7 linked regions of the Homo sapiens genome follow. The protein of the gene in region 1 purifies or fractionates together with the protein of each later gene. This does not show direct contact. Each region holds a gene or a part of one and is shown in the gene's direction. Other genes may lie near its edges.

Region 1 (4,535 bases):
CTCAGATTTGATCTATTTAAATTGTTTTAGAAGATGCTGGTGTTTTTCTGTGCTAGCTATGAAATTTATGGGTAAACTTTAAGCCTTTCCTAGTCCTTTTGTTGTCTACCTAAATTCAATTAATTTCATATGGAAGGATGTAGTAAGTGAGTAATATAAATATCTAAAATTGGATGTTTGAAAACAAAACATACCTGTTTTTTGTAATAGCTTGATTTAATGCTGAGTTCTCAAAATCATTATTAAGATTTTGAACTTTCACATTCAATGTGGAAAGAATTGAGTGTAATTACAAAAGATTTATTTGAAAAAGTTGAGTTGTTAATTTGTGAAATATGTTCCATTAAACTCATAATATTTTAGAAAAATAGTAGGAAGTAATAAAGCTTGTTTATTTTTTATATCATATATTCATATAAAATGTCAGTTTTCCTTTAAAAATTACATTTTTTTTTTGGTTAATTTTTAGGCACTTAGTCGGGCACTTTTAGAACTCCGGGCAGAAATGACAGCAGCTGCTGAAGAACGTATTATTTCTGCAACTTCTCAAAAAGAGGCCCATCTCAATGTTCAACAAATCGTTGATCGACATACTAGAGAGCTAAAGGTGAACATCAACACGTGTTAATGTAACAAAATTTCTGATAATTCCTATTGGAAGAGAATTCACTATGATATATAGTAATTTTGTTGATGAATAGGGAATTTATAATGCACTGTTGGTGGCTAGACATAGACACACACATGCATTTTTCAACAATAAGTCTCTTTATGATACTCATTTACTGATTATCATCTTGGGGATTAGGAAAGGATAGGCCATTATGAACTACTGTTTCTAATGAAATTAAATTTAAGAAATATTTTACTTAGGATTTTTTTTAAGACTTTATTATTTTTTTAGAGCAATTTTAGGTTCACAGCAAAATTGAGAGGAAGGTACAGAGATTTCCTGTATATCTCCTACCCTGAAAGTGGTACATTTGTTAAAATTGATGAACCTATATTGATACATCATAATCACCCAAAGTCCAAGTTTACCTCTATTTTAGCTCTTGGTATTTTACACTCTGTGTGTTTAGACAAATGTATAATGATATGTATCCATCATTATAGTATTATACAGGGTATTTTCACTGCCCTAAAAATCTTCTGTGCCTCTCTTCTTCATTCCTTCCTCTGCACCTCACCAAACCCCTGGCAACCAGTGATCTTTTTACTGTCTCCATAGTTTCACCTTTTCCAGAATATGTTATAGATGGAAACATACAGTGTGTCCCCATCATTCTCACCATAGGACAGCTAGGAACTCCTTTCTAGTGGCATACATATTGTCTAGTATTGTAAGTTACCCTTTTATATCTTATCTTTGTAAACTAGGTTAGAAATTACTTCAAGTCAGAGATTTGTTCTGTACTACTCTTATGCTTCATAGTGTTTAAAACGTTGTCATATATATTGTTATATACTTGTTTGTTTAATTAATTCAGCCAAAATGAAACGTGCATATTTGATAAAATTTTGTTTGTGGGTGTTTGTTGAAGATGAATTGCTTTACACTAGTTTTTTTTTTTTTTCTCAAAGTCGACTTTTTTCCTCAAGGTAGACTTGACATGAATATGGAAAAATATATGTAGTTTGTGGTTATTTTTTTTCTCTTGTGTACTTAAAAATTCAGACTGAATTTTTCTTATAATGGTATATTTTCTGTTTTATGTTCCTTTTATCATTGATACTTCTTGAAGAGTCATGAATAATACCTTTCTTTTTCTCTTATTAGACACAAGTTGAAGATTTAAATGAAAATCTTTTAAAATTGAAAGAAGCACTTAAAACAAGTAAAAACAGAGAAAACTCACTAACTGATAATTTGAATGACTTAAATAATGAACTGCAAAAGAAACAAAAAGCCTATAATAAAATACTTAGAGAGAAAGAGGAAATTGATCAAGAGAATGATGAACTGAAAAGGCAAATTAAAAGACTAACCAGTGGATTACAGGTAATTTTATATTTAACTCTGATAATGTCTGATTTACAATATAGAGGTAGTAGTTTATTTCTACTTTATCATTTTATCTATGGTATTTGTTAAAACTGACTTTCAAATCACTTTGATTAATGTAATTAATTTCTTTTGTGACTTCTATTGTGTTTATAGTTCTAGAGTAGCATATTAGTATGTTGTATTAAAATGCAGAAGCAGCTACCAGATTATCTTATGTATTAAGTGTCATTTAGAAAGTATGGTCAGTGATAGCTTCAGAAAGTTGCTATTATATAATTGAAATATTTACTGTCTATTTTGTTTTACATTTATTTGTAAAAATATAAAGTTACATTTTATTTTTTAGGGCAAACCCCTGACAGATAATAAACAAAGTCTAATTGAAGAACTCCAAAGGAAAGTTAAAAAACTAGAGAACCAATTAGAGGGAAAGGTGGAGGAAGTAGACCTAAAACCTATGAAAGAAAAGGTATGTGAAGAAACATACTGACTTATATGCTTAAGGTAGTGACAGAGTAAGTTAAATACATAGCTGATTAACAGTTAATATACTGCCTTAATTTGATGACCTGGCTGTATTAATTCTGTATTAATTTTGAGGACTATAAGCAGTATTGAATAACGTAGAAAAGTCTAAGTTTCTGTTCTGTAGGAATTTAGAGTCTACTTGAGGAGATACCTATAATGTAACTCTTATTTGGAAATTACTACATCAATTTCATTCATCTTTCTGACATTAGAGTACCTCTGAAGTTCCTTCACACCTTAACATATTCAACTGTGTATCATTTCTCTCCAAAGTAATCATTTACACAGGTTGGTGCTTTTGACTTTTGGGACAGAAAGATAGACATTTTAAGATACCCCACTTTGACCCAAATAGGTCCTTTTTAATCCTTCAGGAGACTAGGCTGTTATTTCAGATAGCAAAGTTATTTGGAATATCTTCAGTATTTGCAGTAATAATCAGTAACCAATCTGCTCATAGATTAATTCTGTGGGAGAAATTGCTTAAAATTTTATAGTTCATAGTAAACTGTTTTGTAATAAAAATTACTGATTGAAATAACCCCAAAAAAAACTAAAATTGGCTAAAATGCGTGTAATTAAATTTGTTATGGACAATAAATTGGAGATAACTTGTTGGTAACATTCAAAATATCGAAAGTGAACTGGGAAATGTTGATGTTAGCAGTAATATTTGCCATTGAAGAAAATCAGTATGGAGGAGCTATGGTTAGGAAAATTTTTATTATAAAATTTACCCAGAAAATATTTAATGTCTATAAAATAATTTCAATCACATGAAAATGGAAAAGAAAATTCTGTCTTTAAAGGCATTGAATAGAAAATAGGTAATGGAATTCAAATTTCTTAATAGAGTATGCTCCCAAAATTATTTTCTATGAAAATTCATTAATGTCAGTGTAATTTATTGACACTATTTGCGTGGAGTCACAACATGCTTGCTGTCAGAAGCTTTGCTGGTGAAAACTGTAAGATCAAAGTGTCCTTAATCTTTTGGATTTCCATCTTTCTAACTCCCTAATTGGGGATAGGCCTGATCTTATCCCTAAATGGGGATAGGTTAGAAACTGGTATGTTTGTTCCTAACTGGTGTGTTTCTATACCAGTTTCTAACCTGATTCCTATCAGAATGTTTTAAGAGCCTTGTGGCTTTGCCTGGACTCTTCTATGCTACAGTTTATTTAGTTTATTTATTCAGTTTATTCCTCCTTAAAGTGGGAATAATACTATCTGTATTGCCAGTTTCTCAGGATTATTTTACATAAAATGATATGATATGCGGAAGTCTTTTGTAAGCCATCACATCCATAGCAGTATAAGATATTACTACTAACTAGAAAGAGAAAACAGGGGTCTATGCCCAGTATTAAAATTGGCATTCAGGAATCTAGTGAGAATATTTTTTCAGGTTCATTGCTTGGGCATTTCTAATTTATACTCAAGAAATGCTTTCATATTGTTTGGAAATTTTAGTACCCTTTTCTCTGTAAACAGAATTTGTAGTCTACCTATGTAACAAAACCCACCCCTGTGCCTTGCATTTCATTCTCCTTAGCATTTATTACTATCTTAACATACTAGACATGTACTTGTCTTTTGTTCATCTTTTTTTTTTCTTTTTTTATTAGACCATAAACTTTGATGGCAGGAACTTTGCCTATTTTATTTATTATTGTATTCCCAGCACCTAGAACAATCGCTGGCACATAGTAGATGCTCAGTATTTGTTGAATGAATATAAATTTTTAAATGTTATAATAATATTATTCTGAAATCTATGCATACGAAGCTTTTGGTACAGAAAACATGAAAAGAGAACTACTGCCTTATCATCCAGTCTTCTTCCCTCTTCTCATTCAGTCTAGAACATAACCTGTTTTGGAAAAAGTTCTCAAACCATATGTTTATCTTGCCCTCAAACCATAACAACAATCAATGCAAAAGACTTCTGTGACCCCCAGAATATGTGGGGATTTCTCCACATCAGCAAGCAAGCAGT
Region 2 (4,535 bases), on another chromosome or scaffold:
AGTGGGGTGTTAAAGTCTCCCATTATTATTGTGTGGGAGTCTAAGTCTCTTTGTAGGTCACTAAAGACTTGCTTTATGAATCTGGGTGCTCCTGTATTTGGTGCATATATATTTAGGATAGTTAGCTCTTCTTGTTGAATTGATCCCTTTACCATTATGTAATGACCTTCTTTGTCTCTTTTGATCTTTGTTGGTTAAAGTCTGTTTTATCGGAGACTAGGATTGCAACCCCTGCCTTTTTTTGTTTTCCATTTGCTTGGTAGATCTTCCTCCATCCTTTTATTTTGAGCCTATGTGTGTCTCTGCACGTGAGATGGGTTTCCTGAATACAGCACACTGATGGGTCTTGACTTTTTATCCAATTTGCCAGTCTGTGTCTTTTAATTGGAGCATTTAGTCCATTTACATTTAAAGTTAATATTGTTATGTGTGAATTTGATCCTGTCATTATGATGTTAGCTGTTTATTTTGCTTCCTAGCCTTGATGGTCTTTACAATTTGGCATGATTTTGCAGTGGCTGGTATCGCTTGTTCCTTTCCATGTTTAGTGCTTCCTTCAGGACCTCTTTTAGGGCAGGCCTGGTGGTGACAAAATCTCTCAGCATTTGCTTGTCTGTAAAGGATTTTATTTCTCCTTCACTTATGAAGCTTAGTATGCCTGGATATGAAATTCTGGGTTGAAATTCTTTTCTTTAAGAATGTTGAATATTATTGGCCCCCACTCTCTTCTGGCTTGTAGAGTTTCTGCCGAGAGATCCGCTGTTAGTCTGATGGGCTTCCCTTTGTGGGTAACCCGACCTTTCTCTCTGGCTGCCCTTAACATTTTTTCCTTCATTTCAACTTTGGTGAATCTGACAATTATGTGTCTTGGAGTTGCTCTTCTCAAGGAGTATCTTTGTGGCGTTCTCTGTATTTCCTGAATCTGAATGTTGGCCTGCCTTGCTAGATTGGGGAAGTTCTCCTGGATAATATCTTGCAGAGTGTTTTCCAACTTGGTTCCATTCTCCCTGTCACTTTCAGGTACACTAATCAGACCTAGATTTGGTCTTTTCACATAGTCCCTATTTCTTGGAGGCTTTGTTCGTTTCTTTTTATTCTTTTTTCTGTAAACTTCCCTTCTCGCTTCATTTCATTCATTTCATCTTCCATCACTGATACCCTTTCTTCCAGTTGATCGCATCGGCTCCTGAGTCTTCTGCATTCTTCACGTAGTTCTCGAGCCTTGGCTTTCAGCTCCATCAGCTCCTTTAAGCACTTCTCTGTATTGATTATTCTAGTTATACATTCGTCTAAATTTTTTTCAAAGTTTTTAACTTCTTTGCCTTTGGTTTCAATTTCCTCCTGTAGCTCGGAGTAGTTTGATCTTCTGAAGCCTTCTTCTCTCAGCTCGTCAAAGTCATTCTCCGTCCAGCTTTGTTCCGTTGCTGGTGAGGAACTGCATTCCTTTGGAGGAGGAGAGGTGCTCTGGTTTTTAGAGTTTCCAGTTTTTCTGCTCTGTTTTTTCCCCATCTTTGTGGTTTTATCTACTTTTGGTCTTCGATGATGGTGATGTACAGATGGGTTTTTGGTGTGGATGTCCTTTGTGTTTGTTAGTTTTCCTTCTAACAGACAGGACCCTCAGCTGCAGGTCTGTTGGAGTTTGCTAGAGGTCCACTCCAGACCCTGTTTGCCTGGGTAACAGCAGTGGTGGCTGCAGAACAACAGATTTTCGTGAACTGGGAATGCTGCTGTCTGATTGTTCCTCTGGAAGTTTTGTCTCAGAGGAGTACCCGGCTGTGTGAGGTGTCAGTCTGCCCCTACTGGGGGGTGCCTCCCAGTTAGGCTGCTCAGGGGTCAGGGGTCAGGGGTCAGGGACCCACTTGAGGAGGCAGTCTGCCCGTTCTCAGATCTCCAGCTGGGTGCTGGGAGAACCACTGCTCTCTTCAAAGCTGTCAGACAGGGACAGTTAAGTCTGCAGAGGTTACTGCTGTCTTTTTGTTTGTCTGTGCCCTGCCCCCAGAGGTGGAGCCTACAGAGGCAGGCAGGCCTCCTTGAGCTGTGGTGGGCTCCACCCAGTTCGGGCTTCCGGCTGCTTTGTTTACCTAAGCGAGCCTGGGCAATGGCGGGCGCCCCTCCCCCAGCCTTGCTGCTGCCTTGCAGTTTGATCTCAGAGTGCTGTGCTAGCAATCAGTGAGACTCCGTGGGCGTAGGACCCTCCGAGCCAGGTGCGGGATATAATCTCCTGGTGCACCGTTTTTTAAGCCCGTTGGAAAAGCGCAGTATTAGGGTGGGAGTGACCCGATTTTCCAGGTGCCATCTGTCACCCCTTTCTTTGACTAGGAAAGGGAACTCCCTGACCCCTTGCGCTTCCTGAGTGAGGCAATGCCTCGCCCTGCTTCGGCTTGCGCACGGTGCGCTGCACCCACTGTCCTCTGCCCACCGTCTGGCACTCCCTAGTGGGATGAACCCGGTACCTCAGATGGAAATGCAGAAATCACCCATCTTCTGCATCGCTCATGCTGGGAGCTGTAGACCGGAGCTGTTCCTATTTGGCCATCTTTTTTTTTTTTTTTTTTTTTTTTTTAAGAAACAAGAGTCTTGCTTTGTTGTCCAGGCTGGCTTCAAACTCCTGGGCTCAAGCAATCCTCCCACCGCAGCCCCACAAAGTGCTGGGATTACAAGCATAAGCCACCATACCTGGCCCTTGCTTCATCTTATACCTTCACTCACTCTCCCTTCTTCTGTACTATTTTGAAGCGGATCTCAGATTACATATCATTTCACCTGTTAGTATTTCAGTATATGTCTCTAAAGAGAAGAACTCTTAAAGAAACAACCACAATGCTATTATCACATCTTAAAAAAAATTAACCAAGTGCCCTAATATCAGATATTCAGTCTTATATTTTCAATCCTTATAAATGAATTTTGTATCTTAGAAACAGAATTCAAATAATTACAGCCTTATGTCACATTTGGTTGATACATTTCTTAAGTTTCTTTCTTACTCTGTTTAGTGTCTTAAAGCAGCAGTATATTATTATGGCATACTCTGTAGATTTGCTGTGCTGACTGAGCAGTTCTTTCTTGGGGCCTCCTGGGCTTGCACTCAGATCACAGATGGGGCTAGAGTCATCCGAAGGCTTAACTTGGCTAGATGTCCAAGATGACTCTCTTGAATCTCTCAATCTATCTGTCTTTGTTCTATTTTCTTTGCTTTCTTTTCTCTCTCTCTCCCTTGCTTTTCTTTCTTTCTTTTGGTTGTAGTTGAAGAAGTCAGAGTATTTGTCCTATAGAGTTTCCCATTATCTGCTCATTTTACCAACTACATCCCTGTGTCCTTTGACATATTCCTCTCCCTTTTGTATTTTCTGTAAATTGGATATGGATGTTTGTTCAGATTCAGGTTTGATTTTTTTTTTTTTTTTGAGGGGTGGACTATAAGGTTGGTGGACTATAAGGTTGACAGGTATGATTATAGCGCACTATAGCCTCACACACCTGACCTCAAGTGATCCTCCCACCCCAACTCCTGAGTAGCTGAGATTACACATGCCACCATGCCCGGCTAGTTTTTTTTTTTCTTTTAACTGTCATTATGAACTAATGGATTCAAATGCAGTTCATCTATTTAGGCATTTCAGTGTGACAGAATGAATGGGGAGAATACTCATTGCTTCCTTGAAAATGATTTAAAAATATTTGGCACCATTAGTCCAAGCTCAATGGAAGTGCCCCTAAGCAAGAAAAAGGGTTTGAAACATTATTAGAATGGTGAATATGAGTCAGAATGATAGATTTTTTAAAAAAATTGAGTGAATTTTATTTATGAAAAACATACAATGGTGCTATAAAGGTAAGTTAACAAGGAAGATCATTGTTGCCTGACAATGTGTGTTGACTATTCTCATGCCATCTCCTCTTTTTTATGTTCCCCAATTCCAGTTTGAAAGCTGAATGGCTCTATAGTCAAGGCAAGGGGAGAGCATATCGGCCTGGCCAGCACATCCAGCTTGTCCAATATCTGGCTACAGTCTGCCCCCTCACTTCTACACTAGGTCTTCAAACTGCAGAGGATGCCAAACTAGAGAAGATTTTGAGCAAACAGAGGTAAGCCCATTTATTTCTAACAACTGATGAATTCACAAGTTAAAATACCTCTGAGTCTTTGCTATGGTGATAGTAAGCCTGAGGCAAGTGCTGCGGCCCACATTTCTGGACACTCAGTCCCCTTGTCACTGCAACAGTTCCTGCAGGGAAGCTGAATCGTGCACTGCAAACAGCCAAACAATATGGTATGGAGGAATAGAGGGGTTTTTTTGTTTTAAAGACAGGGTCTTGGTCTCTTGGTCTGTGAGTACAGCAGTGCAGTCATAGGTCACTGCAGTTGCAACTACAGGTGCATGCCACCATGGTTGGCTAATTTTTTGTAGAGATGAGGTCTCACTTTGTTCCTCAGTCTGATTTTAAACTCTTGGCTTCAAGCAGTTCTCCTGCTTCGGCCTCCTAAAGTGCTAGGATAATAGGTATGAGCTACTACACCAGGAAACGGGATA
Region 3 (4,535 bases), on another chromosome or scaffold:
TCCAGTGTCGGGATTTGACCCAGTCCTGGTGGGGTGCTGTCCAGTGCCGGGATTTAGACCAGTCCTGGTGGGGTTCTGTCCAGTGCTGGGATTTGACCCAGTCCTGGTGGGGTTCTGTCCAGTGTCGGGATTTGACCCAGTCCTGGTGGGGTGCTGTCCAGTGCCGGGATTTAGACCAGTCCTGGTGGGGTTCTGTCCAGTGCTGGGATTTGACCCAGTCCTGGTGGGGTTCTGTCCAGTGCCGGGATTTGGCCCAGTCCTGGTGGGGTTCTGTCCAGCGCCGGGATTTGGCCCAGTCCTGGTGGGGTTCTGTCCAGCGCCGGGATTTGGCCCAGTCCTGGTGGGGTTCTGTCCAGTGCCGGGATTTGACCCAGTCCTGGTGGGGTTCTGTCCAGTGCCGGGATTTGGCCCAGTCCTGGTGGGGTTCTGTCCAGTGCCGGGATTTAGACCAGTCCTGGTGGGGTTCTGTCCAGTGCCGGGATTTGACCCAGTCCTGGTGGGGTTCTATCCAGTGCCGGGATTTGGCCCAGTCCTGGTGGGGTTCTATCCAGTGCCGGGATTTGACCCAGTCCTGGTGGGGTTCTGTCCAGCGCCGGGATTTGGCCCAGTCCTGGTGGGGTTCTGTCCAGCGCCGGGATTTGGACCAGTCCTGGTGGGGTTCTGTCCAGTGCCGGGATTTGGACCAGTTCTGGTGGGGTTCTGTCCAGTGCCGGGATTTGGACCAGTTCTGGTGGGGTTCTGTCCAGTGCCGGGATTTAGACCAGTCCTGGTGGGGTTCTGTCCAGTGCCGGGATTTGGCCCAGTCCTGGTGGGGTTCTGTCCAGTGCCGGGATTTAGACCAGTCCTGGTGGGGTTCTGTCCAGTGCCGGGATTTGACCCAGTCCTGGTGGGGTGCTGTCCAGTGCCGGGATTTAGACCAGTCCTGGTGGGGTTCTGTCCAGTGCCGGGATTTGGCCCAGTCCTGGTGGGGTTCTGTCCAGTGCCGGGATTTAGACCAGTCCTGGTGGGGTTCTGTCCAGTGCTGGATTTGACCCAGTCCTGGTGGGGTGCTGTCCAGTTCCGGGATTTAGACCAGTCCTGGTGGGGTTCTGTTCAGTGCCGGGATTTGGCCCAGTCCTGGTGGGGTTCTGTCCAGTGCCAGGATTTAGTCCCGTCCTGGTGGGGTTCTGTCCAGTGCTGGATTTGACCCAGTCCTGGTGGGGTGCTGTCCAGTGCCGGGATTTAGACCAGTCCTGGTGGGGTTCTGTTCAGTGCCGGGGTTTGGCCCAGTCCTGGTGGGGTTCTGTCCAGTGCTGGGATTTGGCCCAGTCCTGGTGGGGTTCTGTCCAGTGCCGGGATGCTGTCATGTTATCACGTAACCTGGCTGTTGCTCACCGATTGTCCTTGGTGAGTCACTCTTTAGCATCACTGCAGTGGAAGCAACAGGACCCGGCTGCCCCACGTTTGCAGCACGCTGCTTCTCTCAGAGACCGTGCAGGAATTTTCCTTCTCCTGGTCTGCGTGGGCCGGAGCATATGGCTGGCTTGAGTGATGCTGATGAGTTTGCTTTTCCTTACAGACCACACCACCCCAGAGCCAAGTGCACCGAGGCCTTGGCCAAGCAGAGCCTGGTCATGGATGCGGATGACGAGGCAGTCCTGAACCTCATTGCAGAGTGCGAGTGGGACCTCGGCAGGCCTCCCGGGAGCACGAGCTTCAGCCAGAAGGGGCGTGAGGCCGACTCTCGTGGTTCCCAAGGTGCGCTGCTCATCTGCCAGGAGGCCAGTGGGTCCGCTGGCTCTGGGATATATATAGTCGTTACTGGGCTTGGAGTCCACAGTTGCTCTTTTTGTGGAACTTACCTTGAAGGATAGGATCTTCATGATGTGTCTTTGTGTGCTTTCGAATGCCAGCCATTTGGACTACAGAGTTATAAATGAGAAAGTTAACATATTTGAGTATAGTCATACTGCATGATGGTTTAAATTGTATCCTTCTGAGATCACAGGAAAAGGCAAACTGTCTAAAACAGACAAGAAGCCTAGTGTCCTGTGGCAAGTGGGGCTGACATCTGCGGCAGCTGCAGGGGGGCATAGTCACCGAACTTGCAGGAAACCCTGAGCTCAGGCCGCCACGTGCAGACCTGTAGATCCCAGCAAGGGTGTCTCGGAGACTCCGTTGCCCGGTGGCACTGCCCTCCACTGGGATGTGCTGATGGGCTTTAGCTTCATTTATTCCACCTCCGCTGTGAGTTTCTGAGAACTTTTCGTGGAAACAACAGGTGGAGACCTGAGTTTGGGCTGAAATCTTAGGTTCATCTGTGCAAAGATGTCTGCCCTGTGGCAGCGGTGCTCGAGCCATGTCCTTGCCGGCACTGGGAGCTGAGTCCTTTAATCCTAGCTGCTCTGTCAGGGGGTTGTGGTCTGTGTTTATGGCTTTAATTTGCATCCGCTGCTGTTGAGATACTGGCCGTGCCTGTCTCTTCTTTTCTCTCCAGGTCTGCCCACCTTTGTTCTGGGGTTGCTTCTCTTAGTATTGAGTCCTAAGAGATCTTGGTGGTTTTGACACAGGCCCTTTCTCAGGCACAAGGGCTGCCCATTTCCTCCCTTCTGTGGCTGGCCTTTTCATTATCTGAACAGTGCTTTGAAGAGCACAAGTTTTAATTTCATTACAGTCCAGTTTATGAAGGGCACAGTTTATTTTGTTTTTTGTTTTGTTTATTTTGAGATGGAGTTTTGCTCTGCCGCCCAGGCTGGAGTGCAGTGGCGCAATCTTGGCTTGCTGCAGCCTTTGCCTCCCGGGTTCAAGTGATTCTCCTGCCTCAGCCTCCCAAGTAGCTGGGACTACAGGCGCCCACCACCACACCCAGCTAATTTTGTATTGAGACTGTCTGGACTCTCTCTTCTGTTTTGTGCATCATTTTGTCTGACTTTGCTCCACTTCATGCGGCTGGATTCTTGCAGCCTTGTCCTGAGTCTCGCAGGCGAGTGGCGCCAGTTCCCAGTTCCAAGCTCTCTTGCTGTTAGAAGTCACTGTGGATTCATTTCAGTGTCACCCAGCACGTGATTAACCCCTCGGTCTAACAGATACCATACACTATTCAGAAGCTTAAAATGTAATTTTTGATGGAATAAAACTTTTACAATGTTTTATGAAATATTTTATTTACAATATTTTAATAGAATCCAGACATCTGTTGAGCCCGCAGTTGGTACAGTACCAGTGTGGGGACTCTGGGAAGCAGGGCCGTGAGACGAGGAGGAGCAGCTGCAGAGGGTGCTGTCTGGAGAAGATGCCTTGGAGCCAGCTCTGTGGAGAGCTTCCGCCACTGTACGGAGCGGAGCCAGAGGCCTCCCGTGCCCCCAGGCCACACACGTACTTCACCCCACACCCAGGTACTTACGCGTGTCTTAGTCTGTTTTCTGTTGCTGTAACAGAAAACCACAGACTGAGTAATTTATAAAGAACAGAAGCTTATGTGGCTCATGGTTCTGGAGGCTGGGAAGTCCAAGAGCACGGTGCCGGCACCTGGTGCTGGTCCTCCCATGGCACAGGCAGAAGCATGGTGCAGGCAGAAGCAAGCTCAAGACAGAGAAATGGAGCTAGACTCATCCTTTATCGGGAACCCAGCCCTGCGCTACAGCATTCCTGCCTCCCTGCGGGCTGGCCCTGTGACCTGTTCCAGACTCATCCTTTATCAGGAACCCAGCCCTGCGATACAGCATTCCCGCCTCCCTGAGGGTTGGCCCTGTGACCTGTTCCAGACTCATCCTTTATCAGGAACCCAGCCCTGTGCTACAGCATTCCTGCCTCCCTGAGGGCTGGCCCTGTGACCTGTTCACCTCTTAAAGGCCCTCCGCTTAATACTGTTAGAGTGGCAATAAGTTTCCAGCTTAGGAACTTTGGGGGGTTCCTTCGAACTACAGCAACATGAAATCCCTGTCAACTTTTACTCCCTTCAGTTCCTTTTTAAGTAGTTAAATATTTTTCACATCGTTTGCTTTTACTATGAAATTTCTCCTGTTCTCTGTGTATTTATTTGTTTGTGGAACTCTCCAAAATGTCTTTGGAAAGAATGCAGCACATTGAAATTTATAATCCATTCATGGTTTAGATTCATGGTTGGTAAATAAGTGCTTTTTCTCTGCACGTGTGTGTGTGCACACCCTCCCTCACCCTCTCACTAATGCACACACACTTTTAAGTGTATGGGCCCAGGTTATGGCAATAGCTACATTTTGAAAATCAAAGGCGAGAAAAGTTAACCAAGAGTGTCACGTGATACCATGTGATGGCCACCTATGTGGCATAAGTATCAGAAAACCTCCTGCCGTGAGCAGGCCAGACACGGTGGCTCACGCCTATAATCCCAATATTTTGGGAGGCCGAGGCAGGCGGATCATTTGAGGTCAGGAGTTTAAGACCAGCCTGGCCAACATGGTGAAACCAGGTCTCTACTAAATATACAAAAATATCTGGGCATGGTGGCGGGCACCTATAGTCCCAGCTACTCAGGAGGCTGAGGCATGAGAATCGCTTGAACCTGGGAGGTGGAG
Region 4 (3,500 bases), on another chromosome or scaffold:
CTGGGTATTTTTTCCATAAATCTTGCCACTTGATTTCTCCGTGTACTTCAAACTGTTCGTAACAGAGTAGTGCATTCATCCTTTCCTGGAAGATGCTTATTATTCAATGAAATGTATGTTTGTTCTAATGATGGTTTTCTGCATTGCTATTTCTAATATTTAGGAGTGGGCAATTTGATGAACACCTTATTCAGGAAACATCAGCTTTAAAAACCAGTGTTTTCAAAAGAATCTTTAAGGTCTAGTTATGGGATGTCATGTTCATGGCTTCCCTGGATTGACCATTAGGAGTAAGTACTCAGGCTGCTTGTTCAAATCAAGCTGTCTGGTGTTATGTCAGCAGAGCAAAAATTATACACGGAAACGAAGCTGTGGCCATTACATCAGCCTTAACGTCCTGTACATGTCCTCCAACACAGAGCGCTTACTGTGCTGCCACACAGTTCAGCAGGCAACCTGTGCTTTTAAAAATCAAAGTCCAACAGCAGTGTGTTACTTACTGTCCTGCTCCAGGCCAGCATTCAGTTTGACCTCCTGAAGTGAATTGTAGTCATCAAGTACAGAACTGCAGAGGAAATAAGTTTAATGTCTAGTTCCAAACGTTTTTCTCAGTTTGCCAAGAAATTAAAAATAGGAAGTATCAGGTGGCCAAAAGAAATAATGGAAGAAAACATGAAAATATAGTCTGTCATATGCTTTAAGGGTGAAGAATTATGTCATCAACCAAACCTCTTTCTTATCATTTACGTTTTATCTTACCTTATATCACAATATATGTTATATAGTGCTTATGAGCTTACAGAGCAATCTAAGAAGCAAGATATACCTAAATCCATGCCTTAGCTGTTTTTCATTTTCCTTATGGGTATGGAATTTGGCCCTGCTTATAAAGTATATATTTAGCCTTCCTTAGAACAGACTTCAATCTGTGTTCTCGTAGTTGAACTACCTTTTGCCTTATTTTGAAATTCAATTATTTAACTGAGTCATACTGTGATTTTCTTAGGCTGAACTCATTTTAGTCTGAAATGGATGGTACTAAAAGTACACAAATGAGACCTGTCTTGTTTTCCTTTGACTGAAAAGTCAGCTTGCATATTAATTGTCTTGACCTGCTTCACTGACATTTGAGAAAAGACAAGTAATTTCCTGTTATCCCAATTAGCAGTTTCAAACCTTACCTGGTATGGACATTATAAGACATCAGCTAAATTAACTTACAAATTATGTCATTCTATGCACCTTTAAAGGAATATAAATTATGAAAGTATGGGACAAAATATGAAGATATATTTCATTCAGAAATAATCTGCCATAACATTAAAATACTATTTTGGTTAATACAGCTTGAAGTCAGCTTAGAAAATCTCGCTTTCCTTTGCCGTATGTACTAGCCAATTCAGATGAGGTTTTGAAAACCATTATCCCTTAATCCTGCTGATTTTCCCCTAAGCAATTATAAGGGAACTCTCCTGGACTCTTGATGCCTTCATTTACTCGGTGAAGTCATGATGTCCTTTATCATTGTCTTGAAGATTACCTACCAGTATTCTCACTTAATTTACACGTATATGTAGCTTGGGCTTAGAAATCTAAAGCAAAACCTAGGTCTTTTAAGGGGGAATAAAATCTATTACCTTGGAGCCACTGTACACATTAGATTATCAGGCTGAAATATTATTGACACTTTCAAAATGAGATCTGCTGAGAAATATATTTTAAGGTTATTTTTAAAAATCTAGACTGAGTTTTGTGGCTCACGCCTGTAATCCCAGCACTTTGGGAGGCCAAGGCGGAGGATCACTTGAGGTCAGGAATTTGAAACCAGCCTGGCCAACATGGCAAAACCCTGTCTCTACGAAAAATACAAAAATTAGCCAGGCGTGGTGGCACATACCTGTAATCCCAGCTACTAGGTGGCTGAGACGGGAGAATTGCTTGAACCCGGGAGGTGGAGGTTGCAGTGAGCCAAGATCATGCCACTGCACTCCAGCCTGGATGACAGAGCAAGACTCTGTCTCCAAAAAAAAAAAAAAGAAAGAAAGAAAAAAAATTAGCCGGTCTTATAACCTGCTCTATAAATAAACAAAATAAATAAATAAATAAGTAAAAAATCTAACATTCTTTGTACACTATTAATAACTTAGGAGCTGTGTAGAATATGCCACTCAGTAGCCTAAAATCTTAAATTATTAGGGCATAGGGGCTAGATTATGAGTACAAATACAGAGCAGAAGATACATTAATTCTTGTCAATCATTTTAAGGGTCCTATCTTCATTTCCTGAAGATTTTCTAAAGGTCATGAATTCTATTTTTAAGAACATTAAAGTAGGAGATATGTAGACAAGGAGAAGGTATTCCCAGAATATGAAATTGTATTGAAGGAAGAAAAGGAACAAGTTGAAAATAAAAATGTTGCAACACTTCTCACTTTTTTATTATCAAGATAAATTATATACACACACAAATAATTTTAAAGAGCATAATCATCATTAATATCTTAAGTTATAGTTCATGTCTAAAGGGAGTAGATGGAGAAGGATATACACAGTGTGAAGAAAAAGACATGATAAAGTCAAAGAAAAAATGGCAGAGAACCTTAACTATATCACTTTTGTAAAGTTGAGCACACCATCCTTGGCTGATTATATAACAAATATGTATTTAAAAAAAACAGAAAAACCTAGAAAGTAGTGAGAAAATTATTTTAATATATTGTCTGATTTTGAAGAAATACTGTTAGGGAGACATAAAACACTGAAGATTAGCTATAATTCTGATACTGGTTATAGGTTAGATTTTTAATTACACCTCCATTTTTTGGCTAAAAAAATGAGAGAAAGTTATTAACTTACAGGAAGTTCAGAGGTGGGGTTGTTCTGGGGTGAATTTCATGGCTTACCAATGTCAGGACTCTCCATTCATTTTTCTGTAATGCAAGAGCTCCAAGCATCATTTCTCATGAGACAGCATTCAAAAAGCCAAAGACCAGGCCCTATCTTTAGTCCTTTCTATAAGACCAAGGGAAACTTTCCATGGATCCTTCCAGCAGACTTATACCCAGATTTCATTGCCAAGGTTGCATCACATGTGCATGCCTAAACAAATGACAAGGGAAATGGAATGATATGAACAGTTTAGACTAACCTTGATTTGTTTTTATGGTGATGAGAAAGAGAAATGTGCAAAACTGCTTATCATTACTTTCTGCATGAGCAGCTCTATTACTGTGTATGTTTTGTCTTCAAATTATATTTGTTCAAGCAGTGTTTCACTTTTTAAATATATATATGCACATGCATAGCCCAGATCACATCACCTTACTTAAAAATTTTGGCTCTATTGAAATGTTAGATATATAAATGAAGTAATAAGTATTATGTAACCCTGAAAATGTAGCAAGTTTGATATAATTATTGTTGCTCATGGAATGAATAAGCATGTTTTCCTATAGACAATAAGTAATCCTAGCTTAGAATACAGTCTCTGGAGATATTC
Region 5 (4,471 bases), on another chromosome or scaffold:
TAGCTAGACATAAAGAGTCTCCAAGTCCCCACCAGATTAGCTAGATACAGAGTGCTGATTGGTGCATTTACAAACCTTGAGCTAGACACAGGGTGCTGATTGGTGCATTTACAAACCTTGAGCTAGACACAGAGTGCTGATTGGTTGTTTACAATCCCTTAGCTAGACATAAAGTTTCTCCAAGTCCCCACCAGATGAGCTAGACACAGAGCATTGATTGGTGCATTTACAAACCTTGAGCTAGACACAGGGTGCTGATTGGTGCATTTACAAACCTTGAGCTAGAAACAGAGTGCTGATTGGTGTATTTACAATCCCTTAGCTAGACATAAACGTTCTCCAAGTCCCCACCAGATTAGCTAGATACAGAGTGCTGATTGGTGCATTTACAGTCCCTCAGCTAGACATAAATGTTCTCCAAATCCCCACTAGACTCAGGAGCTCAGCTGGCTTCACCCAGTGGATCCTGCACCAGGGCCGCAGGCGGAGCACTCCTCAGCCCTTGGGCAGTTGATGGGACCAGGCGCCGCCGAGCAGGGGGTGGCGCTCCTCGGGGAGGCTCGGGCTGTGCAGGAGCCCACGGCGGCGGGGGGAGGCTCGGGCATGGCAGGCTGCAGGTCCCAAGCCCTGCCCCACAGGGAGGCAGCTGAGGCCCGGCAAGTATTCGAGTGCAGCACCAGCGGGCCGGCACTGCTGGGGGACCCGGTGTACCCTCCGCAGCTGCTGGCCCAGGTGCTAAGCCCCTCACTGCTCAGGGCAGGTGGCGCCGGCCCACCACTCCGAGTGCGGGGTCGCCGAGCTCACACCCACCCGGAACTTGCGCTGGCCGGAGAGCACTGCGTGCAGCCTGGGTTCCCGCCCGCGCCTCTCCCTCCACACCTCCCTGCAAGCAGAGGGAGCCGGCTCCGATCTTGGCCAGCCCAGAGAGGGGCTCCCATAGTGCAGCAGCAGGCTGAAGGGCTCCTCAAGCATGGCCAGAGTGGGCTCTGAGGCCAGCGAGCAAGGGCTGCCAGCATGCTGTCACCTCTCACTTCCTTCTCTCTCTCTTTCTTTCATTTTTGAGACAGGGTCTCCCTCTGTCACCCAGGCTGGAATGCAGTGGAGCAATCTCAGCTCACTGCAGCCTCCACCTCCTGAGCTCAACCCCTCCCACCTCAGCCCCTACCACCTCCCCTCATCCTCCCACTTCAGCCCCTCAAGTAGCTGGGACCACAGGTGTGCACCACCATGCACAGCAAGTTTTTTCACTTTTTGTAGAGGCAGGGCTTGCTATGTTGCCCAGGCTGGTCTCGAACCCCTGATCTAAAGCGATCCTCCTGCCTCAGCCTCCCAAAGTGCTGGGATCACAGGCATGAGCCACCGCACCCAGCCTCCTGCTTTCTTTCTGCATCTCCCTCTGTTCCTCCTCTTGTTCATTTGTTCATTCATTTGACAAACATTCAGTGACACAGTCCAGTGCCAGAGCCCCCTCCTGGGTGCTGCAGATGTGGAAACGGGAAGCAGCCCCGATTCCTGACCCCTTGCTCTCATAGAGATCATGTCTGAGAACAGAAAAATGGGGCTTTTTTGTGGCTGTGCCGGGCCCAGGTCCTTCATCTTTCAGCTCCCAGCTGAATGTGGCCGTCTTATCTTATTTTCAGCAGCAAGACCCCGAAGGCCAGAAGGAAGAAACGGCAGGTCATGCAGTGACCCAGTGATAGAGTAGAACTACTAATTAGAGAAAGAAAAAGGTGGCCACAATTATGTAGCACTCATGGTGTGTGACGCCCCTTTCTAAGCACGTTAAACATATTAATTCTAATCACAGTCCACAAGACAGGTTCTGCTATAAGCCCCATTTAAAGGTGAAACAGATCCAGAGAGCAAGAAACTTACCCAATAATCACAGCTTGTAAGTGGCAGAGCTGGGATTTTGGAACTCATGCTGCCTGGCTATAGAGTCCTTGCTCTTAGCTGCTAAATGTCTGTCATCTGAGTAGCTGGCATGCTGGTTAAAAGTAAGGGGGATTGCCGGGCGCCGTGGCTCACACCTGTAATCCCAGCACTTTGGGAGGCTGAGGCAGGCGGATCACGAGGTCAGGAAATGGAGACTATCCTGGCTAACACAGTGAAACCCCGTCTCTACTAAAAATGTAAAAAATTAGCCGGGCATGGTGGCAGGCGCCTGTAGTCCCAGCTACTAGGGAGGCTGAGGCAGGAGAATGGCGTGAACCCAGGAGGCGGAGCTTGCAGTGAGCCGAGATCGCGCCACTACACGCCAGCCTGGGCGATAGAGTGAGACTACATCTCAAAAAAAAAAAAAAAAAAAAAAAAAGTAAGGGGGACTTTGGCCTCAGGCTGTGATCTGGATCCTATTTCCACTTGTCTTTTCACCTCTCTGTCCTGCCATTTTCTTTTCTTTTTATTTTTTATTTTTGAGCCAGGGTCTTGCTCTGTCGCCCAGGCTGGAGTGCAGTGGCGCGATCATAGCTGACCGCAGCCTGCAACTCCTGGGCTCAAACGATCCGCCCACCTCAGCCTCCGAAAGTGCTGGGATTACAGGTGACCATGCCCAGCCTCATGTGCAGCTAATTTTTTCATTGTTTGTAGAGAAGAGGTCTTGCAATGTTGCCCAGGCTGTTCTCAAAATCTTAGCCTCAAGCCATCCTCCTGCCTCTGCCTTCCAAAGTGCTGGGATTGCAGGTGTGAGCCACTACGCCCAGCCCCAAAATATACTTTTTTATTCATTTGTTTGCCTCCCCATGAGGACAGGGACTGTTGTCTGTATTGATCATTTATTGAGCAGCTCGTGTGCGCCAGGCCCTGTGCTAGGCCCAGGGGATGCAGCAGTGGACAGAAAGACAAAAACTCCTGTGTTCTCAGAGCTCACATTCTAGAAAGGGAGTCAGACCCTCAAGCAGATAAGGACCTAATTATAGGATAGCAGCTGTGCAGCCCGGAGGTAAGGCGGGGTCAGGATGCGGGGGATGGGGCCATCGTTGAGCCAGGTTGGCCAGGGAGGGCCTCTCTAGGAGGTGACCTTTGAGCTATAGCTGAAGGAAGTGAAGGAGTCAGTCTGTGGCTGTTGAAGAGGGAGGGATGGTTGTCAGCCCAAAGGTCCTTGGCTCCCTCCCTCTCCTCTGGGTCTTTACTCAAGGTCACCTTCTCAATGAGAAGATTCTGTACCACTGCACAGCCCTCAGGCAGTGATCTGGATCCTATTTCCACTTGTCTTTTCACCTCTCTGTCCTGCCATTTTCTTTTCTTTTTATTTTTTATTTTTGAGCCAGGGTCTTGCTCTGTCGCCCAGGCTGGAGTGCAGTGGTGCGATCATAGCTGACCGCAGCCTCCAACTCCTGGGCTCAAATGCACGTGCCCGCACACACACACACACACACACACACACACACAGAGTTGGAGACCAGTGTGCCCAAAGTAACAGGTTGGGAACAGTGCACACACACACACACACACACACACACACACAGAGTTGGAGGCCAGTGTGCCCAAAGTAACAGGTTGGGAACAGTGTTCATGCAGGGTAGTCATGACAAGGACGTTCCATTTTGTTCTAAGAGCCACAGGTGGGAAAAAGAGGGTCTGGGCCGGGCACGGTGGCTCACGCCTGTAATCCCAGCACTTTGGGAGGCCGAGGTGGGTGGATCACAAGGTCAGGAGTTTGAGACTAGCCTGGCCAACATGGCAAAACCCCGTCTCTACTAAAAATACAAAAATTAGCCGGGCATGGTGGTGGGCGCCTGTAATCCCAGCTACTTGGGAGGCTGAGGTAGGAGAATCACTTGAACCGGGAGGCGGAGGTTGCATTGAGCCGAGATCCTGCCACTGCACTCCAGCCTGGGCGACAAGAGCGAGACTCTGTCTGAAATAAAAAAAATAAAATAAAAAAAAAGAGGATCTGACCCAAGAAGGTGTCCACTGGCTTCCCCTGGCTGCCTGTAGGGAATAGACTGGGGACACAGGTGGAAACAGGGAGAGCAGGGTGGGCTCATGGAGAACAACTGATGCAGGAAAGGTCAGATTCAGGATCATCTTGAAGTTGGAGCCACAGAAATTGCTGCATCGTGAGATGTTTCTCATCTCAGGAAACATCACCACCATTGACTGCATTGCTCACGCTGCAGACCTTGAGTCCCAGGCTGTCTGGCATCTTGGGGAAAAGCATGGCCTCTGGAGCCAGCTGCATGGTTCCAGATTTTAAAATCCTACTTCTGATGCGGCATGGTGGCTCACACGTGTAATCCCAGTGCTTTGGGATGCCAAGGTGGGAGGATCGCTTGAGCCCAGGAGTTCAAGAGCAGCCTCGGCACAGTCCCAGCCACTCAGGAGGCTGAGGTGGGAGGATTGCTTGAACCTGGGAGTTCGAGGCTGCAGTGAGCCATGATCGTGCCACTGCACTCTAGCTGGTATAACAGAGTGAGACCCTGTCTCTAAAAACATTAATGAGTTAATTTAAATAGTTCATTACTCACTA
Region 6 (4,535 bases), on another chromosome or scaffold:
CTGATCCAGGAGGTCCGCTGCAGCGGCCAGGAGCTGAGCAGGTAGTGGCTGTGCTTCCCTGGTGGCCTGCTGGCCGTACCACGCATGCAGGCACTGGGCTGCAGTCGTGGAATCAGCACGCAGGCCTCTGCCTTAGTGCACAGTGGCAGGCAGTAGACACAAACACATTGTACGTCTGGTGCGCCTACAACATATGGAGAAAGATCCTGTAAGGAGGAGAGGGCTTGGCAGTGGGTTGCTGTTTTTTGTCAAGGGTGAGTCAGGGAAGGCCTTTGTGAAAAGATGCCATTTGCTCAGAGAGCTGAATGCAGTGAGGAGGTGAGTGCTGCAGCTACCTGGGAAAGATCATTTCAGGCAGAATGGGCGCAGGCCCTGAGGCAAAGTGGCTTAGGCCTGTGCCGGACAGAGCAGGGCAGTGTATCTGGAGAGGGGGCTGGCAGGATACCAAATCACATCGGGCTGCAGAGTCAGTGTGAGGACTTTGGGTTTTCCTCTGAGTGGCATGGGAAGCCACTGGGAGATTCTGAGCAGAGGAGTGGAATTAGGATTAGAGAGCACATGGAATTCTTAACCATGCTTGTCACTTCTTGGTCCACACTCTTGTGACTGAGGGTGGAATTGGCCTGCTCTGTGGGGTTTGAATAAGTTACCCTGAGGTAGAATTAACCTGTCCTTCTCATGCCTGTGGGGCCTTCTCAGGGTGCAGGAGGAGGTGAAGTTGAGGCAGCAGCTGCTCTCACAGAATGACAAGCTATTGCAGTCTCTCCGAGTGGAGCTGAAGGCGTATGAGAAGCTGGATGAAGAGCACAGGAGACTGAGAGGTACTGAGGCCCTTCTCACCTTGAGGCTACTGTGCTTTGGGCTGTAAGACCACCCGACAGCTGGCTGTAGGCACAGGAGGGCAGAGCTCAGCCCTCTCCACTCTGGCCTTGTGGGTAGAGTGGATGGGTGTTGAAGCTAGCTCTTTGACCCACTCTTCTTCTGAAGGAACAGCAGGAAACATAGAAGGACTGAGGCTCAGCACCCAGGCCAGCCGAGGTCCGGGTTCCCACTCACTTGTTCCCAGCTATGTGACCCTCAGTAGGCCACTTCACCCTTTGAGCCCATACCTATCTCTGTAAAACATGTCTCTCAGCACCTGTTGTGTGGAGAATTGTGTTGAAAATTGAATGAGACCATTTATTAAAAGCATCCTAGCAAGATACCTGACACATAGTAGGCACCCAGGAAATGACCTTTATTATAATCGTCCTGCTAGTATATGTTACTTTTTGCCCACTCATTCAGCAAACATTTATGGACACCTCTCACGTGCTGGGCATTGCTCTGGGGATGGTTGTTGGCCTCGTTGCTCTCTGTATCCCAGGAGAGATACCAGCTCAGAGTGCTTCAACTATAACGTCTAATGTTTCAGAATCAATTTTGAGGTGTGGTGAGGTGTTTTTTTTTTTTTTTTATTTTACTAATTTTCCAGATGGTTTCTCTCTATTGAAAGTTTATCTAGAAAGGGGTCATCTCACAGCTTTTATTTTCTCCTCAACTTGCTTTTTTTATTCTTGCTGTTGTGTCTTTTTAATATAGTGTGGCTCTTAAAATCATCCCCTTTCATTCTATAATTCTAGCCCAAATAGATTTTATTACTACTAGACATAATTTCGGGGTTTGGTGTGCAATTTGCTAGGCTTTTATGGCCAGAAGCGAAAATTAATTTCCAGCTCTTATTTAGCGTGTGGAATAGCAGCAATTAAGTCTGCCAATATTTTTGTTTCTAAAGTCAAGTTGTTATTTTAAACTGTACCTAGTTCTTAGGAAGGGGGAGGGCGATGGTGGTGGTGAGTGTAAAATGCGATTGAGTTCCTTCGATGGCTGACCCTTTGGTTGTGGAAGATGTCAGGGCTTCTCTTTGCACATGTCCTCAGAGGCGTCGGGAGAAGGCTGGAAGGGGCAGGATCCTTTCAGGGACCTGCACAGCCTCCTGATGGAGATCCAGGCTCTGCGCTTGCAACTAGAAAGGAGCATCGAAACCAGCAGCACTCTGCAGAGCAGGCTCAAGGAACAGCTGGCAAGGGGGGCAGAGAAGGCACAGGAAGGAGCCCTCACTCTGGCTGTCCAAGCCGTGTCCATCCCTGAGGTGCCCCTTCAGCCTGACAAACACGGTACTGCCCCTGCCTCTCCCCACTTGCTGAGAATGCAGCTCTGAGCATCTGTGTGTGACATGTGAACTTCTGAATGATGCCTTTGCCCCACAGAGGTGTCTTTCCATTGATAGCTGACATGCTGTACCCTAGGAGCCAGGGGACCTGACTGCTAATTAATTAGCGGTCACCTTGGGCAAAGTGGCGTAATCTCCATCTGAGGCATCTTGATTCTCAGGGAAGTGGAATTTGGACTTCCAGACACCCTCAGTGCCTCTGGCCTTGCTCCCTCCTATCCATTTAGTCCTGCCTGCATCACTTTGATGCTGAAATTTCTTTTAGTTTCTCTTACTGCCTTTAGAAGGGAACCTAAACATCTTAATCTGGCTTTCAGTGTCTTTCAGGATCTGAAAATCATCCTGATAGGTTTAAAAAGTGGATCTGTTTTGCATTTGTGTGCAGGTTAATTGCCTAGCCCTGGAGAGGCTGTGGGGGGTACGAGAAAGAGGACCAGACACCTCTACCACCCGCCCACCCAGGGTGTGGAGCAAACCAGTAAATGGTTAGACTCCAAGCAATCAGGCAGCCTGTCCTCTTTGCTCTAGAGATGAAAAACAAAGGCCCAGAGAGTGGATGGGGCTTGCCCAAAGTGGCACAGCAAGTAGGCAGCAGAGCTGGAGCTAGAAACCATTTCCAGCTTCGAGTCCAGGGCTGTTCCTAAACCCCACTGGACTCTCTGGAGCGTTGGGTATCCTGGGATTATCATCCTGACACCCATAGGGTAAATGTGTGTATCCAGTGGGATGAGGAATGCCAGCCTGCTTTACAAGCAAGTATTGTACTAAAGTTTGGACTGACTTTTACTTGGATACCTCTAGTTAAAAAAATAAAAATAAATCTCTTAAGGAGCACCTGGTCAGTCCGCTCGTAGTGATTAGTTCATTGATTTCTCATTGACAAGGATCTTAAAATTTAATCAAAAAGATGATGTAATAATATGAAAAAAGTGAACAGAGAAAAAAAGTTCATGATTCTACACATTGATCATTTTTTAAAATTTGCATATTTTTTCATTTATTAAATATGAGCATGAATTTATATTTTTCAAATTGGATTTTGTGTCATTGTGTGTCCTTTCTTTGTTTTTGCCCAATATTACATCATACATGTTCCCTGTGCTTTCACATGGGCTTCCTAATGATTGTTTGCAGGCTATTCTCAGTCACCAATCCATGACCCCGTTGATTTATTAAAGTGGTCTCTGATTTGGAGCCATAATAGACATCAATGTTAATATGCTTTTTGCTGTTAAATAATATTCTTAGGAGAAAACCCTACAAGGGGAACCTCATAAGTTTGGAAAGGTGCCATATTGCCACCTTCTAAATAGTCTGTACATCAGCAGTGTACAAAGGTAGTGGTTTTTGTGTGACCTCAGCATTGGGCATTACTATTTTCAACACGGGTCTGCACCTGGCCCTTTTTAAGGCTTTGAGGAGATGGGATTCAGGAACTTGTGGGGTAGGCTAGGGGAGTTTGAAGCAGGGAGAACAGTTCTGTGCTTGGGGTACCCAGGAAGGAGAGTTGGGTAGCTGAAGTGAGGAGGCCATCAAACAGCCTTTACCTGCTTTTGAAATTTGCCGAAAGCAGCCCTCATCATGCCTGGCAAGAGGCATCCAGGAGAGCATTCAGAATTCACAGTGCTGCCTCAGCAGAAAAGTTTTATAATTTCCTTGAGTCAAGATCAGAATTATAGGCAGCAGCATTTCTTCCTTTGCAAAAGACTTCTCAGGTCTGTATTTAAGTGCATCTGTTTTAAAAATTCTGTTCTAAAGGCTGATGTCTTTCACTGAGAGTGATTCCTCTTGGGGCCAGCTCTATGGAGCTGACCTCCTGGCTCCTTGGCCTTAGGAACTGTAGCACACCCCTGGGAAATGCTGGAGTGCAGTCAGCCCACCGCCCAGTGGTGCAGGAGCTCGGAAGGGGGATCCTAAGCCCTAGGCTTCCTTGCTCTGTGCCACTGACATGCTGGGTTATGCTGGACAGATCACTTTCTATCTCTGCCCCTTGGTCTCCCCTTCCATGAAATCTGAATTACAGTGTGTTTTGCCCACTGAGCTATTGAGTCCAATAGCTTTTCATATGTGAAAGTGCTTTCCAAATTATAACGTGTTGCACAGGTCATCTGTACAGCATCTATTGGTTTTGCCTCCTTACAGTGTTGCAAATACATCACCCCCCAGATCCTATTGTGGGTTACTCTCATCTCTAGCTTAGGTTAGTGTGGCAGCCTCCAGACTTACTCTTTCAGTACAAAATACAGACCTCAGCTTGACATTGCCTTGCCCAAAGCCCTTGAGTGGGCCCCTCAGTCCTCTTGGTTCTGGCCTTGCATTCTAC
Region 7 (4,535 bases), on another chromosome or scaffold:
AAGGAAACCAGCTCAGAGAGGCTGATAGTTTGCCTGAGGCCTCTCAGCAGAGGGCGAAAGCCAGGTCTTCTGATACCAAGTAATTTACTGTGGGTCACACCACCTCTGAGGGCCTTTTCAGTCCCGAGGTTTTCTGATGCTGTGATTTTGCCCAAGTTCGCCACCACCAGTTGAGCTTTGTCTTTTTTTTTTTTTTTTTTTTGGAGACAGAGTCTCACTCTGTCCCTCAGGCTGGAATGCAGCGGTGCGATCTCAGCTCACTGCAACCTCCACCTCCCTGGTTCAAGCAATTCCCCTGCCTCAGCCTCCCAAGTAGCTAGGATTACAGGGGTTCGCCACCACACCCTGCTAATTTATGTATTTTTAGTAATGATGGTGTTTTACCATGTTGGCCGGGCTGGTCTTGAACTCCTGACCTCAAATTATCCACCCCCCTAGACCTCCCAAAGTGCTGGGATTATAGGCATGAGCCACCGCACCCGGCTGAGGCTCTTTTTGATTCCCTGTGTCACAGGGCTTAGAAAATTCCATCAGGCTGAACAAGCAGTTTCCCATCCAGGGCAGCTCTAGTTGGGGATGTGGAGGTGCTCAATGCGTGGAATAAGCCAAGGGCAGCTTAGCAGTGTCCCCTGGAGCCAGGAAAGGCCCTGAAGAACACTCAGTCCAGCCCCTGTAGAGGGCAGAGCCACTCTGCTGCCTCCCCAGCAATGAGACAGGTTTACACAAGACTAGTCTTGAGGTGCATGCCTCCATGCCTGGCTAATTTTTATGTATTTTTAGTAGAGACAGGGTTTCACCGTGTTGGCCAGACTGGTCTTGAACTCCTGACCTCAAGCAATCTGCCCCCACTTGGCCTCCCAAAGTTCTGGGACCACCCCACCGTGGGCCACTTTGTCTCCTTTTTGTGAACATTCTGTACCCTTCAACTCCAGGACCCTGGATCCCCTGCTTCCTAGTATGAAGCTGATGGCCTGGATGGGGACCACTGGTATGAGGGCATCAGGTACAGTGACAGTCTAGACTCGGGCTCAGCCTGCAGGCCAGACCTCAGGCTCAGCTGGTTTCTCTTTTTGAAAACAAATTACCAGGCTGGGCATGGTGGTTTACGCCTGTAATCCTGGCACTTTGGGAGGCCTAGCCAACATGATAAAACCCTGTCTCTGCAAAAAATACAATAATTAGCTGGGCATGGTGACAGGCACCTGTTGTCCCAGCTACTCGGGAGGCACAAGAATCGCTTGAACCCTGGAGGCGCAGATTGCTGTGAGCTGAGATCACGCTACTGCACTCCAGTCTGGGTGACAGAGCAAGACTCTGTCTCAAAAAAAAAAAAAAGAAAAAAAAAAGAAAACAAATTACCAGAAACTTGTAAAGTATAAAGATGGAGACAGGGTGGTGAGGAACCACCCTGGTACAAAGCGAGCAGAGTCAGGGCTGTAGCAGAGGCCAAAGCCAGGGGCAGAGGCATGCAGAGGAGGCATCAGGGAGGGCTTCGGAGGGAGGCAGAGCTCAGAGTTGCCCTGCACCCCGAAGGCGGTGTAGCGTTTCACCATGTGGAAGAGCAGGCAGTGGGCAATGGCGGGAGGAGAAGCAGGGTGCTAGCACAGGGCTGTGGCCTCCTCACAGAAAGTGGTTGCTGCTGCCCCACAGGTCTGCCCACCTCTAACAACAGGCACAACCCAACCGGGAGCGAGAAGAAGGACCCATCCTTTGCCCAGCTCTCCGATGTGCCCGTGGAATCCCAAATGGAAGAGCTGACAACCAGGTGCTCCCCTGCCCCGCCTTCCTGAAAGGGTAGGGTTGTCTGAGCAGAGGTGCCTCCATGGGCAGAGGGACTGTGTCCCTCCCCTTGCACTTTTGACTCATTTGCCCAGAAGGCTTGTCCTGTTTGGTCCTGGGTTCTAGGCCTGCAATTCAGGGACTGGCCTTCAGAGGACAGAGGGCCCGGCCCAAACCCCAATGACCCATAGTCCAAGAGAAATTTTATCAAGCATGGATCACTGAACCAGTTTCTCACTACGTTAAACCTTTTAAGACCCCACGCAGCCATGGGAAGGGAAAGACGGGAACCTCTACAAATTGGAACTCAATTTGTAAGGGGCCTTGAGGTAGCTTACATTGCAGGGAGCCAGGCCCATAGAGAGGAATCCATGGTACCCACAAGAGTCAGTGAGAGGAGGGGATGGGTCAGAGGGAAGCCTGAGCCTGAAGAGCAGCCATGCTGGCAACCACATTCCCAGGGCCCTCTGTCACCCACGCACACCTGTGTGCAGCTCCAGCCACACTGAGCACTGTCTCCTGTGGTCCAGGCTGGCCATCCAGGTGGAGGAGAATGAAATGCTAAAGGCTGCCCTGGGCAGTGCCCTGCGGGGAAAGGAGGAGGACTTCCGGATGTACCATGAGATCCTGGGCCAGGTGAAAAGTGTCTTCCTGCAGGCCCTGCGGCAGCAGAAGACAGGCAAGCAATAGGATGACAGCCCAGTGTCGGCCTGGCCGGGTGGGCAGCCTCAGGTCTTGAGAGGATAAGACTCTGTCTGAGGACTCCATCTGCTCCGGGAAGCCAGCCCAGGGCAGCCAGCTCAACCACTTCTACCAGAAGAGGCTCCTTAAGGATGACCAAAACCAATGTCTCAGGCCAGGAAGGCAGAAGAGAAGCCCTGGTGGGACACTGCAGGAGACCCTGGGCTGGCTGGGTTACAGCAGCAGGGAGGCCCAGCAGCCCACTGGCAGAGGCGAGAGCTCTGGGATGGCAAGGCGGCTGTGAATGGACAGATGCAGTCCCTCGGGCAGGTGTTCATCGCCCTCATCCTAGGTACTAGCCCTGGATGTCCCCATGGCTTCACACACAGAAGAGCCCTTGGTTACCCTAAGTGGGCATATCCCCCATGCCACTCAGCCCTGCCCTATCCCCTCACCCCCATCCCGGCTCCATCTGTAGCCGTCCACACCCTACACAGACTTGGGGCACTATGCTCTCAACCAGTTTGTCAGCCCACTCCTCAGGACACTTCCTCAGGTGCAGACCCTTGGACTTGTAATAATAATAAGTATTTTCATAATCACTGCAGCTCCCAGTGAGTGAGCATCTACTGTGGCAACCTGACCCCATTCAGTCCTCTAATGACCCAGGGGTTTGTTGTCTTATTTGACAGATGAAGAAACTGAGGTTCACAGAAAGAAGCTGAGCTAATATTTAACTGCAGTCTGCCTGACCCCAAAACCAGGGTCTTGCCGTTCAGAGATTACCCAGGGTAGGCGCACCCACCCACCACTGAACAACCCCACCCCTAGGCAGCAGCTCCAAGAGGCATCTTTGTTTGCTCACCAAGACTGCTGATGGATGCTGGTGGCAGAGGGCCGAGGTGGGGCTCAGCTGGAGCTTCAGGCAGAAGGGTTTTGAGGTAGTGGCTCCAGTCAAAGGTACAGTGCACCTCCCTCGCCATGGTGAACTTGGAGGGATGCTGCAGGGGCACCCTAAGATCCGCAGGCCTCTATGACTGTCAGTGTTGCCCTTTCTCAGCTGTAACTATGCACTTATAGCTACAGGAAGGAGTGGCCCCAAGGAGGGTCACTCATAGCCACACACCCCAACTCCGACACCCTGGCCACACAGGTGCACCCACAGCCCCACACAAAGATGCAGATGCACACACATACCTCAATTCAGGAGCATGCAACTGTACGTGCACACAGGCACCTCCATGTGTGCACACTCATGGACACACAGGTGCAGATGAGCACACACATGTGGATGTGGACACACATTCCCACACGTGAAGACATAGCCACTTGTGTGTTGCTTGTGCAGTGATGCACAAATGCAGGTGCACATACTGTGAAAACACCCCCTTCCCCAGGAAAAGCCACTGGGGCTCCTGCGAGCATCTTGTCAGCTCCTTCCTTGGAAAAGCCACTGCGGCTCCTGGGACCCTGTCTTCTCAGCCCCTTCCTTGGGGATGGGGCTATGGAGGGACCCTAGCTGGCCCCCACTCCTCAGGGAGCCCCTGACCCTGCATGGGGTCACACGGATCTAGAGATCCCACAGCAAGTTAGAGCAAAGGCCACCGGGATGAACTGATGATTCTGGTGGGGTCCTAAGGGTCTCTGGGAAGGAAGAGTTTTTCTCTGGTTCCTTGTGAAGGAAAACGGCCAGGCAGAGAGCCAGGAGAGAGAGGGTCTGTGCTTGGAGGGGACAGTGTGTGACAGCGAGGGGTGGGCTGGATGTAGAGTCTGAACACAGAGGAGTCAGCACCTTCTCCTGCAGGCCCTGAGGAGCTCCAGAGGGTGATCTGAGTATGAGGGGTACAGGCTCTGGCCTCAGTGCAGTCCCAGGGAGTGAGAAGCAGGCATAGGATCAGCCATCCTTCCTCAAGATCACCTCAGGGAAGTGCAGAGATGGTGTGACCCACACTCCAGCCACTTCAGGGTGGTTCTGCTGCCCTTCCTGGGCTATGCCTGAGAAAGGAAGGAGCATTAGGTCATGGAGTCTGGACAGGTGGGGCTGCCTGGGGCATACTTCTCTCCCCACTTACCAG

The links.
Region 2: the proteins of CEP290 (region 1) and CEP97 purify together in Homo sapiens (co-immunoprecipitation; 4 studies listed by BioGRID and IntAct, with this or other methods). This does not show direct contact.
Region 3: the proteins of CEP290 (region 1) and CEP72 purify together in Homo sapiens (affinity purification with mass spectrometry; one large-scale study listed by BioGRID and IntAct). This does not show direct contact.
Region 4: the proteins of CEP290 (region 1) and CNKSR2 purify together in Homo sapiens (affinity purification with western blotting; one study listed by BioGRID). This does not show direct contact.
Region 5: the proteins of CEP290 (region 1) and ECH1 purify together in Homo sapiens (affinity purification with mass spectrometry; one large-scale study listed by BioGRID and IntAct). This does not show direct contact.
Region 6: the proteins of CEP290 (region 1) and CDK5RAP2 purify together in Homo sapiens (co-immunoprecipitation; one large-scale study listed by IntAct). This does not show direct contact.
Region 7: the proteins of CEP290 (region 1) and CCDC13 purify together in Homo sapiens (co-immunoprecipitation; one study listed by IntAct). This does not show direct contact.

Annotation. Positions count from the first base shown.
Region 1 is NC_000012.12:88,075,164-88,079,698, reverse strand, and holds part of CEP290 (centrosomal protein of 290 kDa), read left to right. Parts: intron 1-469; coding exon 470-607; intron 608-1,780; coding exon 1,781-2,002; intron 2,003-2,354; coding exon 2,355-2,477; intron 2,478-4,535. UniProt on the Homo sapiens protein: Involved in early and late steps in cilia formation. Its association with CCP110 is required for inhibition of primary cilia formation by CCP110.
Region 2 is NC_000003.12:101,751,506-101,756,040, forward strand, and holds part of CEP97 (centrosomal protein of 97 kDa), read left to right. Parts: intron 1-3,924; coding exon 3,925-4,089; intron 4,090-4,535. UniProt on the Homo sapiens protein: Acts as a key negative regulator of ciliogenesis in collaboration with CCP110 by capping the mother centriole thereby preventing cilia formation. Required for recruitment of CCP110 to the centrosome.
Region 3 is NC_000005.10:632,211-636,745, forward strand, and holds part of CEP72 (centrosomal protein of 72 kDa), read left to right. Parts: intron 1-1,558; coding exon 1,559-1,737; intron 1,738-3,161; coding exon 3,162-3,374; intron 3,375-4,535. UniProt on the Homo sapiens protein: Involved in the recruitment of key centrosomal proteins to the centrosome.
Region 4 is NC_000023.11:21,611,918-21,615,417, forward strand, and holds part of CNKSR2 (connector enhancer of kinase suppressor of ras 2), read left to right. Parts: intron 1-3,500.
Region 5 is NC_000019.10:38,817,897-38,822,367, reverse strand, and holds part of ECH1 (delta(3,5)-Delta(2,4)-dienoyl-CoA isomerase, mitochondrial precursor), read left to right. Parts: intron 1-4,471. UniProt on the Homo sapiens protein: Isomerization of 3-trans,5-cis-dienoyl-CoA to 2-trans,4-trans-dienoyl-CoA.
Region 6 is NC_000009.12:120,404,633-120,409,167, reverse strand, and holds part of CDK5RAP2 (CDK5 regulatory subunit-associated protein 2), read left to right. Parts: coding exon 1-41; intron 42-699; coding exon 700-821; intron 822-1,919; coding exon 1,920-2,156; intron 2,157-4,535. UniProt on the Homo sapiens protein: Potential regulator of CDK5 activity via its interaction with CDK5R1. Negative regulator of centriole disengagement (licensing) which maintains centriole engagement and cohesion. Involved in regulation of mitotic spindle orientation.
Region 7 is NC_000003.12:42,706,914-42,711,448, reverse strand, and holds part of CCDC13 (coiled-coil domain-containing protein 13), read left to right. Parts: intron 1-1,650; coding exon 1,651-1,765; intron 1,766-2,309; coding exon 2,310-2,469; 3' UTR 2,470-4,535. UniProt on the Homo sapiens protein: Required for primary cilia formation and promotes the localization of the ciliopathy protein BBS4 to both centriolar satellites and cilia.